Linked DNA regions of Homo sapiens: region 2 is linked to region 1. A link means that fine-mapping ties the variant in region 1 to the expression of a gene that starts in the linked region. Tissue or cell type: whole blood. Region 1 holds a variant in brackets; the other region holds the start of a gene. All regions are shown on one strand. Distances are from middle to middle.

Region 1 (9,260 bases):
ATCTATGTTCTTTAACCCTTCTCTTTTGCTATTCTTGGTAGTTAGCTTTGTTTGCCTTTATGCTCACAAATGACAACATCCAGAAAAAGACAAGACCATCTGTTCATTTGTATTTCTCTTGGGAAGGAGAAATCTTTCCCTCAAGCCCTCAACTCTTACACCTCACTGGCTAGAGCTGTGTTCTGTGCCCAAGAATAAACCATTTATAAGAGGAATCAATTATAAGAGGAATCAATTAAAAGAGGAATCGATTATGACCCAACCCCTGGAGCTGGGGTCCAGCCTTCCCCTGAAGCACATGGCCCCTCGAAGGAGGTTGGATATCTGAACAAAATTGGGGTTCTGAGAATAAGCAAGAGAGTAAGATGGATCTGCGGCAGGAAATCAATGATGTCTGCAACAAATTAATTTCAAAAGCCATTTTTTTTTTTTTGAGATGCAGTCTTGCTCTGTCACCTAGGCTGGAGTGCAGTGGTGCAATCTCGGCTCACTGCAACCTCTGCCTCCTGGGTTCAAGAAATTCTCCTGCCTCAGCCTCCAGAGTAGCTGGGACTACAGGCGTTCGCCACCATGCCAAGCTAATTTTGTATTTTTAGTAGAGATGGGGTTTCCCAATGTTGGCTAGGCTAGTCTCGAACTCCTGACCTCAAGTGATCTGTCTGCCTTGGCCTCCCAAAATGCTGGGATTACAGGTGTGAGCCACGGCACTCGGTCACAAAAGCCTTTCTTGAATGGAATGAAAATATTTACTAAGTGTGTCTTATTTATATAAGGCTGATAAATCTTTTAGCAGTCTCAGCAGTTTGATAAATGGTTAGTTTTCTCTCTTGATTTTAATAAAACAATTAACATAATTATAATTTAAAGACTATTTTAAATAAATATTTAAATGTGATAAGCCTGGTACGGTCAATTCAGTTTGGCATAGGTTTTTAAAGTGTCTGTTCAGAATTCTTTTGGCTGGATTGGTTCACAATAAATATCAGTAATGATGAATGAAATTTGGCAGTTCACTCATTCTCCATAATTTAGAAAGGTGCTAACATGCCTCCAAAGTGTTAGAGAATCTGTTCCTACTTCCTACTGCCTTTCATCTGAGTGTAAAAGATAGGCTTTTAAAGTCCCACTTGCAAATGCCTGGACAGTTTTCTGGAACTCCAAGAGACACTAATCAAAAAAACAGAGGAGTGCTAAGGAGAAACTGTAAACTATCCTAGTTTGCAAGAAATAAAAACTGACTGGACCTAACTTGAGCATAAGAAACAATTTATTTTAAAAGTTCAGGCTGGGTGCAATGGCTCACCCCTGTAATCCCAGTACTTTGGGACGCCAAGGTGGGCGGACTGTGTGAGTCCAGGAGTTCCAGACCAGCCTTGGAAACATGGCAAAACCCCGTCTCTACAAAAAATACAAAAATTAGGCTAGGCAGGGTGGCTCACACCTGTAATCCCAACACTTTGGTGGGAGGCTGAGGAGGGTGGATCATGAGGTCAAGAGATTTGAGACCGTCCTGGCCAACATGGTGAAACCCTGTCTTTACGAAAAACACAAAAATTAGCTGGGCGTTCGTGGTGTGCGCCTGTAATCCCAGCTACTTGGGAGGCTGAGGCAGAAGAACTGCTTGAACCTGGGAGACGGAGGTTGCAGTGAGCCAACACCACGCCACTGCACTCCAGCCTGGGCAATAGAGTGAGATCCTGTCTTAAAAAAAACAAAAACAAAAACAAAAACAAAAATTAGCCGAGCATGGTGGTGCACACCTGTAGTCCCAGCGGCTTTGGAGGCTGTGGTGGGAGGGTTACCTGACCTCAGTGAGCTGTGATCGCACCACTACACTCCAGTCTGGGTGAGAGGCAAGACACCATCTCAGAAAAAAAAAAAAAGTTCAGGATGTTCCCTGGAAGCCTAAGGCAGGAATTCAATTGAGTCTCTGGTAGTTCTGCCTACCTGGAAGTGGAAGCTCATGACGAGATGGGAAGATCCATTTCTTGTCTCTGCTTCTCTCTACAGTCCTGTTTCATTCTCTCCTCTCTGCAAACTGTCTTTCTTGTTTTTTCATGTCTGTGGTGGGCAGATGATAGCTACTTTTTATTCTCTGCTCAGAAGACAGTCCAGAATCTTTGAGTGTCTCTCAGTTCTAATTCTGAATTCCAAGGAGAGAGAATCTGATTTACAAATAATGCTGAGCTCTCGTGCTAGACTAGGAACTTTATGAGGCCAAATACTCTATTTTCAGGCATCCCTTTGTCTCATGCTCTAGAACATGCTTAGTATATAGTGGACACCTGAGGAATGTTTGTTGAAGGAACTGAGACTTTTCCAAAAATGATGACTATCCAGTGTTGAAACTAGCGGCCCTGAAGAGTTGTGTGATTCCTAGCACTCGCAGAATTTAAGAAAAAAATGGATAAATATCTGCTTACTAATATTAATGGCTAACATGTACTGTTTCATACATTCCTCATTCATATAGCTTAGATTAAGGAACTTGCACACAGTCACCAAACTAGTAAGTGGTTGATAAGGCATTTTGACTCTAGTTCTGTCTGTCTGGATCTAAAACTCGGTGACCCTCCAGCACAGTATATGGCCTCCAATAAGATTTTTAGGAGCAATGCTGGAGGCCTGGTTGAGTCAGTCTAGTCTTGTCCTTATAAGTCTGATCTGGGGCTTAGTAAATTTCTCCTGTTAACCACTTTATCAGCTCCCAGCCAAAAGATCTTCCCTTGCTTACTGATGTCTAAAATTCCATCTTTAGCAGAGTCATTTCTTTCTTTGGTTTAATATAAGGAGTATCTCATCATTATAGAGTACGTGGCAGGTTACAAAGACCTTTACATAATGATGTCATTTTTATGACAATCCAGTGACATCAATAAGGCAGGGATTATTGACTCCCATTTTTGAGATAAAGAAATGGAGGTTCACTGCTGCTAGGTGACTTGCTCCAGAAGAGATGACTGAACTCTCCAGGGAGCCTATGGACTCACCGCTTAGGGGTAGAGAGGAGGAACCTCTTTGGTCATGTCCCTGGGGGTGGGCAGTGAAAGCTGATCCATCAAGAGAGAAGCAAGAGTCACCTCCAAATGGGCTGAGAGGGACGGACAGCCACGGGCCACCTGGTACTGAGTTCTGTTGCTGGACTAGGGACTTTATGAGGACAAACACTGTTTTCAGTCATCTCTTTGTTCTCATGCTCTAGAACATGCTTGGTATATAGTGGACACCTGAGGAATATTTGTTGAAGGAATTGAGACTTTTCAAAATATGACAAATATCCACTGTTGGAATGAGCTTCCCTGAAGAGTTGTGTGAGTTCTAGCACTGTCAGAGTTTAAGAAAAAATGATAAATATCTGTTGACTAATATTAATGGCTAACATTGTTTACTATGTGCTGAGTACTGAGCTAAGTACTTTACTTGTATTGTTTCATGTATTCCTCATTCCAACCACATGAAATAGGTTCTATCATTAATCACATTGAAACCAAGGCATGGAAGAGTGAAGTTACTTGCTCAAGAATCCATTGCAAATAGTATGGCCAGGATTTGAACCCTGGAATACTGAGTTAGAGCCTTGGATCTTAATCATGTTGTCAGTCGTTTCCCAGGTGAGGCAGGAGTCTGAAGTAGGTTACCCCTTAAGAAATTTTCAACTATTTAAGATTCTCTGGTGGTTGGCCGTAAGATTAGTACTACCACACGGAGAAAGCTGGGAACAAGAACTGGTTGTAGACTGGGTGTGGTGGTTCATGCCTGTAATCCCAGCACTTTGGGAGGACTGCTTGAGCCCAGGAGTTTGAGACCAGCCTAGGCAACACAGCAAGACCTCATTTCTACAAACATAAATAAGTAAATTAGCTGGGATACATGCGTCTGTATCCCAGCTACTCAGGAGGCTGAGACGGGAGGATTGCTTGAGCCCAGGAGGTCAAGGCTGCAGTGAGCTGTGATGGCACCACTGTACTCCAGCCTGGATGACAGAGGGAGACCCATCTCAAAAAAAGCCCCCCAAAAACGGCCGAGTGTGGTGGCTCATGCCTGTAATCCCAGCACTTTGGGAGGTCGAGGTGTGTGGACCACTTGTCAGGAGTTCGAGACCAGCCTGGCCAACATGATGAACCCCGTCTTTACTAAAAATACATAAATTAGCCAGGCATGGTGGTGAACGCCTGTAATCCCTCGGGAGGCTTTGGCAGGAGAATTGCTTGAACCCGGGAGGTGGAGGTTGCAGTGAACCGAGATCGCACCATGGCACTCTAGCCTGGGTGACAAGAGTGAAACTCTGTTTCAAAAAAAAAAAAAAACCCAAAAAACAAACACCATCCCCCACCAAAAAAACAAAAACAAAAACAAAAAAACAAAACTAGTTGTAGAATGTAGAGAGGTTGGTAAAGAACAAGTTGATTTTGGTTATGTTTGGTATGAAGAGTCAGGATATCCAAATGGAAAAGTCCACTGATATTCTTTATGTTCAACAAAAAGATAATTCCTACTTACGCTGTTGCCATAAAAAGTTCTTCCAACATAATGCGTCATAACTATCCTAGTTTGGCTGTGTGTATTATGGTACTTATGGCTCACAGTACCCTGTTAACACAGTCTCATATTTTATTATTGATAATACTGCAGCTTTGTGAGATAAGCAACATTCCCATTTTAGAAGACAATTAAACACTGACTGTCTTTTGTCAGAAATTTCATTACAGAAAGTGTATGTAATTTCAAAACTGAAAACCACAAAGAAGTATCTTCTACACAACAAAAAGAAAAAAGCAAACAAAATATATCTTAAGGCTTAAAGAGTTCTAACTAAATTTGCCCGCCGAATCATTTCTTAACAAACAGGGATCTCAAATTTAGCATGCTGTATTATCACCATTCTTGGCAATAAAACAAAAATTGCAAACATATTAAGAAAACAATGCAATCTAAAACACAACAAGTGATAATCCATGTAAAAAATTATTTGATGGAATAACATTACTATTTAATAATAAAGTTCTGCTAAAGCTTTAGAAATATCAGAAAAAACTTACACTGGCAAACATTCATCAGGCAGTCAACAACTGAATGTCCCCTGTATACTGATACTAGGGGTGAAGAGACTCTAAAAAAAAGGGGAACAAGGCAAAATTTAACTTCAAGGGGCCTTTTCTCGCAGCATTGCAAATAAAACCCATGACTCTGGACATAAAAAAGCAACAGTGACACTGGGGACTACTAGAGGCGGGAGGGATGGAGGGGGAAAGAGTTGAAAAACTACTGGGTGCTATGCTCACTACCTAGGTGACGGGATCATTCATATCCCAAACCTCAGCATCATGCAATATAACCATGTAACAAACCTGTACATTATACCCTGAATCTAAAAGTTGAAATTATAAAAAAGCAAACAAGAAAACCCATGACTCCTAGGAACAAGCACTCAGGTTCCCATATGACCAAAGCCAGCCAGAGGCAAACTTGGAATCAGATAGGCCTAGGCTTTCTTTTTTTTTTTTTTTTTTTTTTGAAACAGGGTCTCGCTCTGTCACCCAGGCTGGAGTGCAGTGGCGCAATCTCGGCTCACTGCAAGCTCCGCTTCCCGAGTTCATGCCATTCTCCTGCCTCAGCCTCCCGAGTAGCTGGGACTACAGGCGCCCGCCACCACGCCCGGCTAATTTTTTATATTTTTAGTAGAGACGGGGTTTCACCGTGTTAGCCAGGATGGTCT[C/T]GATCTCCTGACCTTGTGATCCGCCCACCTTGGCCTCCCAGAGTGCTAGGATTACAGGTGTGAGTTACCCCGCCCGGCCGGCCTAGGCTTTCATCACAACAGACGCACTGTTTACCAATGGTACGACCTTGGGGAAGTTGCAAAACCTCTCTAAGCTCATTTCTTCATCCACAAAATGGTAAAACTAATCTTTTCTGCGTAGGGTTGTTGTAAGAATTACATGAGAGGTGTGAAAACAGTCTAGAACAGTGGCAGTGTGGACTTGCAATAAATGTTAGCCTCATCCTTTTCCCCACATTAGTTCCTTTGCTTTTAAGAAAACTGCTAAAATACAGAGGAAATTGACTCCCTCATTCAATTAAAAACACAGTTATTGTCTACTGGGCCACTATGTACAGATGTATAGGTTGTTCCCTGCTGAAGAGAGATTGGTGACTGGATTCCAGCCCATAAACACTCATCAGACTTGGTGTTCTGTTTCTAATTTGCACAAAGGTGCTACATGTGTGTTTCAGAAGTGACAAAACTGGGCTTTGCCCACAAGTAGCATGTAGCTTGTATCTCATGTCTGAGGGGAAAACAGACAAGTAATCAAGAACTACAATACATATTAAAAAAAAAGAAGTAAAAAAACCCTACAATACATATAATTAATGCTAGTCTAAAGAAGGCACTGCAAGAACAAAAAAGAAAGACATTTAAATCAGACAATTTGGGGGGCCCAGGATTAGTGACCGAGGATCAGTAACTTAAAGGATGATGGGGAGATCGTGGGGAAGGATGTTCTAGGCAGAGGAGTGACATTTAATTATTAATACATTTATTCATTCAGTAAATGTGTTTTGTTAGTTCATGTCTTTTATTAACTCATACACAATTAATTGTCTTCTGGTTTGCTGAAGCAATGAGACATTTGTCACAATAATGTCTGTCAAAGTGGCTGGCCATAAACGCTCCAGTACCACATTCATCTGAAGAGCACTCTAGATGAAGGCGACTTATTTTGCCATTCTCATCCACCTTACAGTATTTCAGGACAGCCAGCTTCACCTTCTTTCGCTTACGCTTATTCTTCTCAGGAGTGGTGTAAACATTCAGTAAAAAATAATTGAATATCTAAGTGCCACGTACTGTTCCAGTACTGAAGATACAATAGTGAATAAAACAGACAGGATCTCTTTCTTGTAATTCTAACATTCTAGTAGAAGAGACAAAAAATAATTGGGCCAAAAAATATTAAGTAGTGCGATGTACTTTGGGAGAATATAAGCAGGGTGGAGGTGCTGGTGGTAGGTGGGGTGAGGATGCGACCTTAGAATGGAGAGTGGAAGAGTGGGAGAGTAGGAAGGCCTCTTCAGGTAGGTGTCATTTAAGCTCAGATCTGAATGGCAAGTGTGGGAAGCTCGGGTTGATCATATCAGGCAGAGGGAGGAGCTGTTGCAAGTCTTAAGTGGGGAATGAACTTTGTGTTTTTAAGTTGGCAAAGACCAGTGTGGCTGAAATGCAGTGGATGAAAAGAGGGGCAGGAGATGCAATATGGAGAGAGAGGTATGTGCCAAACCTAGGTAAGGCCTGGAAGCTTGAGAGTGGTGAGCTCAGAGACCTGCTAAGAGTTTGATATGGCATTAGGAAAGGGACTGTGTTAGGTGATGAGAGAAGTGATTTGGGAGATACAGGCAAGAAACAGATTCCGACAAGCCCTACATGGAGGATCTGGGAGGTATTATTTCTGCTCAGTGCTATGCAGAGAATCCCAAGGAGGCCATGACTAAAGTCATTCAAAGAAAACCTTTCATGTTTATGCCTTCAAGGAAGGTATGAATACTGAATCTTATCTTTATTACTTGTTCTTGAATCAAAGTCATCAATGAGAACTTAGAACTCTTCTCAGGCGTGCCCCTAAATTCTGATTAATGTAAGATTTATTTTTGCAACATTTGAGTATACTTACCCTGATGGTGATTTCTGTTCCATGGAATGTTAAACTAAGTTGTTTTGTAAAAGAAGAATATATTTTACAATGACTTAAATGTTGAGGCAGCACATAATGTCATGTTGGTAACAAATATGTGATATTTATTTATTAGAGCATGAGAGTATTTTGCCTCCTGATATATGAGGCAGACATTGCTATTTGTCTACCTTATATCCATGGTTTCCCCTTCATTCTTAACAACAGAACCTCAATTTTGTTTGCGAATGAGCCCAACCGAAAATACTTGTGTTCTAAACTTCCTTGCAGCTAGGGATCATCCTGTGACACAGTTCTGGTCAACATGTAGGTGGAAGTTTCTAGGGAGTGTGGTCTTTCCTGAAGAAAAAGGCAAAGTCTGGAGAAAGCCCTTTTTCCTGTTCCCTTTCGTGCTTCCCCTTCCTTTCTGGTATTTGTAATCATTTAGTGACTTGATGTTTGGAGTCTTCTAATTTCTTTAAACATATTGCAAAATAGTATGTGGAGCTGAAGACCACTGTCCCATGAGGAGGTGGGCTACATCTTTGTGATGTTTGCACTGGTCTGGAGCTAAACTGCAGGCATAAAACTATAGTAAGGTAATTTTATCAAAAGTACAGTATCTCTCAGAATTCATTATACTGAAGGCTGTACTTCATGTTTGTAGTGATAAGTAGTTTCTCCCTTTCCTTGATCCAGAATGTATGTATGTAGTGATACATAAGTTTCTCCCTTTCCTTGATCCAGAAAAATCTAGTCAACAATTATTTCTTAAATGTTCATTTAACTATATATATACTGACTATAATTTCAATTTCAAATGTAACACTTCCTTTTGTGCCATGAGGGATACAGCAAGATTTTTTCAAGTTCCTGGGCCTGTAGATTTAAAAAAAAAAAAAAAAGAAAGAAAAGTAAGAAAAAAAGAAAAGAAATTAAAAAGAGGAAAAGATTTTTGTTCTTGGGAAGCTGATAATTTCATGAGATGACAGATGTATTCACAAATAAATGTAAAACAAGTACGTATATGATGTGGTGGGCCATGGCCAGGCCTGCCGCAGAACGACTAAGTGGATGTGAAGGGATTTGGAAAAAAAGCCCCTGCCCCAAATGCAAAGCACACGTTTCCAGGGCTGGAACCTGGATGTTAGGCCTAGGTGATGTGACTCCAGAGTGGCAAAACTGTTGCCTTATGTATAGTATAAATTGTTTCTGGATGGTGAAGAGCCTAGGGTTATAAAAGTTATTGAGTCTACAATTCTGTGAGACATCTCATTCTGTATAGGCCCTGTCACTGAGTTGCAGTGTGCCTCTAGATACAAGGAGTCAGTGTGAGCTGCTTCCTCCCCCACAACCTGCCTCCGTATTTGGTTTCTGTGCTCTGTGCAGTTTACTGGCTGCTTCAGGATTAAACAAAGTAAAAGCAACCCTGAAATGTTGCCCATTAAATAGCATCTTTGAGTAGGCCGTGTGGGGAGGTAATAAGTGCCATTAGGGCATTATTAGGATGAGTGTCAAAGAGTTGTGAGGAGGAAGAAACTTCTGGCTGGAGGCTTCAGGAAGGTGGCAGCATGAGCTACATCTTGAACGGTG
Region 2 (9,260 bases), 37 kb after region 1:
GTGTGTGCTTCTACTCTTTATCTACTTGGGTGCTGAGGCAAGAGGGTAACTTGAGCCCAGGAGGTCAAAGCTGCAGTGAGCCGTGATTGTGCCACTCCAGCCTGGGTGACGAGTGAGACCTTGTCTCAAAAGCAAAACAAAAAAGAATATTGCTGCTTGTTTGCCCATGAGGTATATTTCTTTCATTTTATGAAAAGCATTTTGACAACACGTTAACATTTAATAAACTTTAGATTAAAATATATAGTGCAAGCAACATGCCATTTCAAATCCGTAGACTTGTTTCTTTGATACTCTTGCTGTAGGTCGCCGTGAGGGGTAGGGAAGCATATATACTGTAGGGAGAAGTATCAAAATCATTTAAGGTCTTTTTTCCAAACTAGTGTTCCCCTCCCACATCCCAACAACTCTTGGAAGTCTGGTGCTCCCTCTAGGTGAAAATCATTTGCTGGCTTATGGAGTCACTGTTGCTGAGTCCCATCCCCCAGTTACAGTGCAGTGGAAAACAGGTTTAGAATCTAGAACTTGTTTGTATGTTGTCACTTGGTTATGTTCCAAGTAGGTTAGAACCATGGAAAAGAGATTGCAAATGGTAGTTTCTTCTAGATATTCAAATGCATATATGTATGTACATGTAATTATAAATAAATAATGAATTTTTATTAAAGTGTTGTATGAACATAGGTTTTTGTTTGTTTTTGAGACAGTCTCCCTCTGTTGCGCAGGCTGGGGTGCAGTAGCGCAATCTTGGCTCACTGTAACCTCTGCCTTCAGGGTCCAAACGATTCTCCTGCCTCAGCCTCCTGAGTTGCTGGGATTACAGGTGTGTTCCACCACACCTGGCTAATTTATATTTTTAGTTGTGATGGGGTTTCACCATGTTGGCCAGGCTGGTCTTGAACTCCTGACCTCAAGTGATCTGCCCGCCTTGGTCTCCCAAAGTGTTGGGATTACAGGCATGAGCCACCGTGCCCAGCCTGAACATAGTTTAATGGTACTTCAAGGCTAATAAGGAAAGCCCCTTGCTCCATCCTTTCCTATTCCTCAGTCCCATCCCAAGAGACATTCAGCCTTCAGTTTTTTCTAGCTCGGTTCTTTCAGCCTTCAGTTTTTGGTTTTAGGTTTCTAAATAATATGATTATACAGCCATTTATTTTTTAGGTGTTTGTCAACTTACTATTAAGACAGGTGAAAATTTCTTTTATTGTTTCACATCCTTCTAATATTATTTTGGTTAGATCATGTACCTGTTTGCATAGCTGTGATCATACTTGTATGTTCACTCGTGAATTAATTTAATGTGCTTACATTTTCATTCTCATACAACGTTTTGTCTTGGAGTTAATGCTCTTTTTTTTGGCTTTTTATGCACATCATTGATTCTTCCCAAACAGTCCCAAATAAATTTGTCACAACTTTTCTTGATTCTGTACTTGTTTCAATCTAGACTAGTTTCTCTCATCCAATTGTATAGCAGTTTTCCTGAGACAGCACTATCGTGAGGATTTGTTTTTCTTTCTCTTGAATTGTATCCCTCATTTTCTGGATCCCATGTCTTAATTTACTTCTTTGTTAACATGGAGCACTTCTTTCAGTAGTTTCTTGGGAATGAGTGCGTGAGAGATCAGTCAGTTATTTAGTGACTTCATATTTCTGAAAGATAGTTTGCATGGAAATTCTAGGTGGAAAATCAAATTTGGAATTTTTGAAAATTTTGACAAGTGTATTCAAATTCAGAATTTTGAAGGCATTGCTCTATTCTAATTTGCAAAATCTTGAGATATCTGATGCAGTTTTTATTTTTATTTCTTTGTTTTCTCAGCATCTCTGTTTCTAGTGTTCTAAAATTGCATGATACTGTGCTTTGGTGGGATTGGCAACCTGGAAAATATTAAGTTCTTCATCTCTTCTCTTCCTCCTCATTTTCTTTGTTCTGGAACTCTATGACATAGTGGAGCTCCCAAATTGAATCTTGGGCCTTATTTATTTTTTTTTTTTCTGTCTGGGATATTTCTCTAAGACAATTTTCCAATTTGTATTGCATTTTGTTTTTGGCTAGCATTAAATTACTTGCCTCTGTGTAGCTCCATGCCACACTCTTGCCTCTAAATCCTAGGCCTGCCTGAATTCTGCAGGATCAGTCCTACTGTCACTCATCTGTGATAGCCCTGCTAAGGCAGATACCACTCTTCTTACCATGTTCAATACATTTATTGAGCTCTTCAGTATTGTTTCTTCCTATTTTAATTTTTCTGGTTTTGTAATTTGTACTCCTGCTTTTTTACTGGGCTTTTGGGAGGAAGAAGGTATAGAGTGTTAATCTGCATGTTGAATTTATATGCAGGTGACTTTATTCATGAAACTTGTGGTAACTGCTAGACAAGGGTGGCTGGGTGTTCAATGTGTAAGAATGCTTGTGTTTTCTTGAAAGTAGAAAAATGTTGTGTTATAGACTAGTTGTTCATTGCTTGATTCTTGATTAATTTTGCCCGCTTTCATTATTTTGAGGCTCAAGCATTTTGAAGTATTCATTGTCTGTGACTCCTCTTTGATGGGTACTAAATTTCCTGGGAGTGAATTTAGATACCCTGAGATGTAATATATGAAAGAAAAAGCAAATACTTGAGAATGTCCCTAGATTAGACACTTCATGTGAGAATATCTCTTTTTGTGACCCAAAACTCTTTTTTTTTCTTTTGAGATGAAGTTTCGTTTTTGTTGCCCAGGCTGGAGTCCAATGGTATAATCTGCCTCAGCCTCCTGAGTTGCTGGGATTACATGCATGTGCCACCACACCCGGCTAATTTTGTATTTTTAGTAGAGATGGGGTTTCTCCTTGTTGGTCAGGCTGGTCTCGAACTTCCGACCTCAGTTAATCTGCCTGTCTCGGCCTCCCAAAGTGCTGGGAATACAGGCATGAGCCACCGCACTCGGCCCCAAAACTCTTCTTAAAGGTGGTCTTGCAGGTATGTTATAGTTAAAATGAAGTAGGTTGTCTTGCTTTGTTCTTAAGTGGCTTTCCAGAAGTCTAACTGGTCTAAAGGCAGTCTTATCCCCCTCACTGGTGTATAGTTCAATTCAGACTTGAATGCGAGGTATGGGTTTACATCTCATCTCTGCCACTTATAATCAGTGTATCCCTCAACAATTAAATTCCTTAGTCTCCATTTCCTTCCTCCTTCAGGGGAAGTTAATATTCCACAAAGTTAGAAGTTACAGGAGAGGAAAAGTAGTAAACGCCCCAAAATGAGGCAGTTACTTCTATTATATCTTCAAAGGATACATGGCTCAAGGCAGATCAGGTAGTTGGGAGATTTCTTAAAAACAGCATAATAGCTAACATGAACATTTTCATTATTCAGAGAAATTTGACATAGCTTTTTAACGTATGTTTCTGAGAAAAGTTACTAGTTATATTGTCTTCCTCCAAGAATTAGTCTTTGGGTACAGATGAGGCTTGAAAAAATGACATTCCCTCTTAGACTAGGTAGTGTGAAGGGAAAAAAAAAATGACATTCCTCTTCCCCCAAAGCAGAGTGAGGTCCGTATGGGATATAGGTGTAAAGAAAATTTTGGGCCGGGCATGGTGGCTCAAGTTTGTAATCCCAGCACTTTGGGAGGCCGAGGTGGGTGGATCACTTGAGGTCAGGAGTTCAAGACTAGCCTGACCAACATGGTGAAACCCCATCTCTACTAAAAATAAAGAAATTAGCCAGCTATGGTGGCACATACCTGTAATCCCAGCTACTTGGGAGGCTGAGGCAGGAGAATCTGGAAGCAGGAAGGTCTCAGTAGGCTGGGATCATGCCACTGCGCTCCAGCCTGGGCAACACAGCAAGACTCTGTCTCAAAGAAAATTTTGTGGAACACCTATTTTCTCACTGACATGAAAAATGTTTCAAAGATGAATAATGTCCATCAAGCTATGGCAATGGAAGTGAGGATGATAAAGGATTGCACAGTTGTTCACAACCTCACTGTTAGTATCCTGCTGAGATAGTTGGTCTCCTCATCACTGTAGCATCTTTTATGTACAGCAGAGGGCAGAAGCTCCTTGGCATGTATGTGAGGGAACCACATATATGGAAGGCTGTTATTCCTGAGAAAGGAGGATGTGCAGACACTCACAGAACAAAGCCTTTGTAAAGGAAAGGCGGCCGATGAGATGGAGTGCTTCCTTCACCTGTGGTGGGTCTGTATCCATGAAATCGCCCACTCACAATCGCTTTTTGTAGCTACTGGAAGCACTAGGCGTCTGACCTGCCATCATCCTTGTTATGATGTCATAATCATATTCTGTCCGTGTTTATTGCAGTTCTCTGGTTTGTCTGGAGTGTTTGCAAGTCAGTCATCATAGTGGCAGCTTCCGCCTGCTACAGGATATTTATATATGGAAGCATACCATGGCAGGAGTGCTGGAAAGGTGGTGTCAGCTAACAGTTGCTTCAGCCAGATAAGGACGGTAACTTCAGTCCAATAAAAACCTCATCAGTTACCAACTAAATCAGGGCATGGTGTTTTTTTGTTGTTTTCTTTTTAAAGCATAGTTTTAGTAATATATTTACTAAAAACCTTAGACATTATGAAAAAAGTCAGGATTTGGAATCTTACACTGCTTGGCTAAATTGACACAATATAGACCAACAGTTTCATCCTGGGGCTTATGGGTCTCATAGGAGCACCCGTATGCTGAAGAAAGGCAAAGAGAGAACTACAGAATTTGTAGAAAAGTTTTGTTGTAGTTGCTTCTGAACAATTAGTTTTTGTTTGTTTGTTTTGTTTTGTTTTGTTTTTCTGGTAACCTAGCAGTCAAAGCTCACATTTTTGTAAGTAATTTGCATGCTATTACTCTACTGAGACTGAATTATGATTCTCGAGTCTGGGAAGTTTTTGTTGCATGTGCTCTGTGTTTTTCATTTTTGATAGAAATGATTTAGACTTGATTTTAAAAATTACTTCCTGAATGTGAAGAGGCATTGACTGGGAAATGAAATTAAAGAACAAATTACCATGACTCATTCAATAACACTGCTTATTAGCTTTGAATTATGCCCTATTATAACAATTCTGATTTTGTGGCAAGCAATACTGGTGTGAGTTATTTCTGTGGTTTGATACCAAGCACCTGCCTGGTTAAAAAATAAAGCACCAGGCAATTTTTCATAGACAATTATCTTTATTTGTTGGAATATTTATTTGTAAATAGTCAAAGAATTCTTAAATGACAAAAAATCAACTGTTAGCAGTGATCTAAACCAGAGGAAAATGAAATTACTTACATGTTTCCAGTCAAGGTATAAGAAAGGGTTCTGTTAAAGGGATGCTGCTTTAGCCAATCTTGGTGAATAAGCAAATTTGCACACTGGAGTTGAAAGGAGGGTCAAGTTAGTGTGATGAAGAATTGCTAGTAACACTGGCTTCTCCAGCCTTGCTGGTTGTTCCTAGATGCCCTCATTTGGAGATGCCAAAGATAGCAACTACTGGGTGTCAAACAGCCGTGGGGCCTGGTTTTAAGGCCATGTGATCTTGTATCCCTTTACTAGCAGCCTCATGAGTCATTTGCAAGTCATTTGCAGGCTCTTGGAGCCCTGGAACAGCACCCAACTCAGTTTTCTCTGCTAGTTCTTTATTTTTCCATTTGCGTGTTGCAGCTCATTAAAAAAATATTGGAATAGCATATATTTACATTGTGACTTCACTCTAAAGAAGACATTTTCTTTCAAAGCACGTCATGGCTCACTAGGTTGTTGTCTTAGTTTTTTTTGGAGTCACCTTTTGAGTAGATAGCAAGACCAGTAATATGGAGATTTTATTAGCTGTACTCTTAAAGTCAGTTTTTGTGGCCATGATTTTCTAGCTAGGTCTCTATTTTGTAAACATTGATTAAGCCTCAGTATGAAATTGAAGCAACAGCAGATACATTCCTGAAGGGGAAGCTAAGGCTCAAGGCTATTAAGTCAGAGATCCAAAAATGAACCATGCTTCAGTTACCACACCTAAAATAGAAGCTGTGTGCAGAACAGTGGTCCTGTGATGTGACACATAAAACTTTTTTTCCTGGTCACATATTACTGTTTGGTCAAATATTAGTATAAATGGATGATAAAATATGAAACACATCTAAAAGAATTGTTTTAAAATCTGTGACTATGCATGAGTGAATATTTTGGGGCCTTGGTTTTAACTGCAAAAGGATAAGATTTGACTGACCTCTAAGGCCCTTTTACTCTATTTGCTGCTGCTTTTTAATTTTTTTTAATTGTCATATCAAGTCATTTCCTTAGGAATGCTCTATGAAGTATATTTGGAATTCAGTAATGTCAATAAAGTGCTATGGTAGTATCTTATCTGAAAACTCAGGGAATTGTTTGTTCTTGTTAATTAAAATTTCAAGATAAGTGAAACACACTTTTTTAGTTTTAACCCTAAAAAAAATTTTTAGTCCATGACTTTTTGAGCTCACTTTCTTAGCTAGGGTTCTGGTAGCACATTTTTCACAAGTACCAGTAGTTTTAGGTATTACTGGGAAATTGTTTTTTTAATATTTTAGACTAAGTTTAAATTGCTCAGTAAGTGTCTGATACTTTTTTTCCCCACATCTTCTTTAGGTGTATACTTTTTTTTTTTTTTTATGAATTTGGTTTCTCCCAACTCTATATTGCTCTTCATTCTGTAGATGAGTTTTAAAGGAAATTTTTGCAACAACAGAAAGTAAACAGTGTGTTGTCAAATACACACAGGCACCATATTTATCGCATTGACTTTACTAGAGTCCAGATAGACATCACATGAGGATTTTTATCCTCAATCTTATTTCTGTTCATGTACTTATTATTAACTGCCTCCAATTCTTTTGAAAATGGTGAGATTTAAATCCTAAATAAACATTTCAGGTGTTCCATCTTAACATAAGTCACCAACTTCTAAACCTGGCACTGGGCATTTGAAGAATAGGATTCGTCCCTACTCTAAGGAGTTTTCAGTCTATCGGGAAATCAAAGATGTAAGCAAATAGATGCAATAAAATACTACAGATGTTCTGATAGAAGAATGTAAAGAATCCAGCAAAGGCAAAAGGAAAGACAGGTTGGTTCTCTCTTCCTAGGGGAAGTGATGTTTGAGCTGAGTCTTGAGGCAGGATTAGGAAGGGATATAGAAAAGAAAAGTAGCACAAAGCAAGACTCATTGAATGCTGAACAAAAGGCCCGATTCCAGCTCTGCTGCCAGGCAAATGTGTGATCCTGGGCATTTACCTCGCCGAGCTTCCATTTCCTCATTTGCGGAAAGGATGGGAACTAAAGCACATCTAACACCCTTTCTAGATCCAAACATCCTCTATCACGATTAGACTTGATAACCATGAAAGGAAAAGCTTTTATAGTAATTGAAATTTGTCTTTCTAGAGGCTTCTTTTCACATAATTAAATGGCCACAAGTTCTCTGTTGTGCTAGAGATACATCTCCACATAAACCTTTTAAACTCTTCAGGATTTTCAGTGTTGCTTGCAGTTGTGCTGTCGTTAGAGAATATTACTTTCAATATTTAATAAACCTCAAGCTATTACATAAGTGACCTCAGTCTAAGGGAAACCCAGGTGGAAGAGATCTCAGAGGTCCTGAAGTCTAGCAGCATTCCTCTCTATAGCAGCTAAGTTTGCTAAGATTGTTGTCTTGGGGACTCACAGTCAGCATCTTATGGCTAAAGGAATTGTGTGAAGAGAAGGACTTACATGCCATATGGAGGGAGGCTATAAAAATTGCAATTTTCTATTAAAGCCTCCTGCAATTAGAATGGTTCATGGTAATATTCTCTTTTTTCAGAATGTTTTGTGGCCACTGCTGACTAGCTTAATTTTGTCTACCTAGTCTTCTTGCACAAAGGATTTGAGGCATCTCACCAGAATGTGAACAATGTAATAAAAGAAAAATTTTAAAATTAGTTACAAAATAAAAACAGATCCAGGGAAAATATAGGCAGAACTGAGACATCTGAGGAGGAGAAAAGAGTGTTTGCAGATAAGCAGGGTATACATGGATGTACAATTCTTAAAATTGGGCCACACATTTGACTGTGAGCTTCCTGGCAAGCAAAGCAAAAAGAACGATTACAAAGTGGTCCACAGAAGGAAATATTTTTTTCTGGATAAGCCAAGTTCTCTAGAGCCTTAGTTGAAAATACTATTTGTGGGTGGTTCTTCATAGGCCTGTCTGGCTTCCTGGTGGCTGTGGTTCTTGTGAAGTTGAGTTCACAAGCCCAACCTCTTGTTTTTAACATCAGTGTTTTCTTCCAGGGACAATGACTCATTCTTCCCAGGACACTGGTTCTTGTGGCATTCAGGAAGATGGAAAGCTTTATGTGGTGGATTCCATAAATGACTTAAACAAACTAAACCTCTGTCCAGCCGGATCGCAGCATCTGTTCCGTATGTGTGCTGGGGAAGGCACAGCAGCCCTTCCTAGCTTCTAGGCTACCTAAAAATAGCCACTGCTGACTGGATGTGTGGGTGTGGTGGAGGGGGAGGGGGCATTAGGAAGAGGTTGGCACTGGAAATGTTATTTGTTGTTGGGCAATTTTGCTTTTGTTTTCTGAATACTTGACAGGATTATGGGCTTTCTTGGATCCTACACGAGATTTGAACTCTTGACTTCAAATATTCTGAGATCCTGTGGCGTTTCTGTCCCTGGAAAGGGGTGGAGCCTGCAGAGCTGGACTCCTGGAGGCTGGCTCATCCCTCTCCTAGTGACCATGGCTAGGTTACCGATGGGGACCACTTCCCACAGGAGTGTTGTTTTATAGCAGATTGCTGAGAGAATGCTCAATCCAGAGCATTTTCTACTTACAAGTTACAAATTGTGCAATTAAGGGTTGGAGAAAGGGGGTGGGGGGAGCAAAATAAAATCTGCTAAATACTAAGTGTGTATCTTGCCTCCTAAATATTATAAATGAGCTTTATCAGATCACTCTGAGTGCCATCTTTTCTAGCTTAAATGCTGACATTCAAACACCAGTGTTAATTGCTCACTTGCCATTTGTTTCATATGCACTCTAAACTTACTGTTCCAATTTTATATCTATTATTTCCTGTCTAAATCCTTTCCAAGTTCCTCCTTTTTTTCTTCATTTTAATAAGTTCAAATTTTCATCTGTTTTTATTGCTGTCAGTCTCAATAGCAGTAGAAGTTTAGGTGTCAGCCCTATGCTGTTGCTTTGATTAGGAAGCAAAAGTGGCTGAAGCGTATGGCATAGGATGTACTTATAA

Alleles and levels. Alleles are on the strand shown, and positions count from the first base shown. SD is a standard deviation of normalised expression in the study named.
With allele T in place of C in region 1, the expression in whole blood of the gene that starts at base 4,471 in region 2 is higher (small effect, 0.15 SD a copy in GTEx).

The links. PIP is the estimated chance that this variant, and not a neighbour inherited with it, causes the effect.
Region 2: LSMEM1 starts here. The variant in region 1 is fine-mapped to the expression of LSMEM1 in whole blood (GTEx, PIP above 0.99).

What each region holds. Positions count from the first base shown.
Region 1 is chr7:112,439,571-112,448,830 of GRCh38, forward strand. LOC105375457 (a long non-coding RNA gene) reads right to left here and starts at 3,780. Exons shown (of 3, transcript XR_001745325.2): 1 at 2,735-3,780; 2 at 1,948-2,143. It also overlaps a transcript of IFRD1 not described here. The variant C/T (reference allele first, on the strand shown) is at 5,717.
Region 2 is chr7:112,476,521-112,485,780 of GRCh38, forward strand. It overlaps LSMEM1 (leucine rich single-pass membrane protein 1), which reads left to right and starts at 4,471. Exons shown (of 4, transcript NM_182597.3): 1 at 4,471-4,826; 2 at 8,292-8,423. The coding sequence starts at 8,297. It overlaps IFRD1 (interferon related developmental regulator 1), which reads left to right. Exons shown (of 12, transcript NM_001550.4): 12 at 1-683.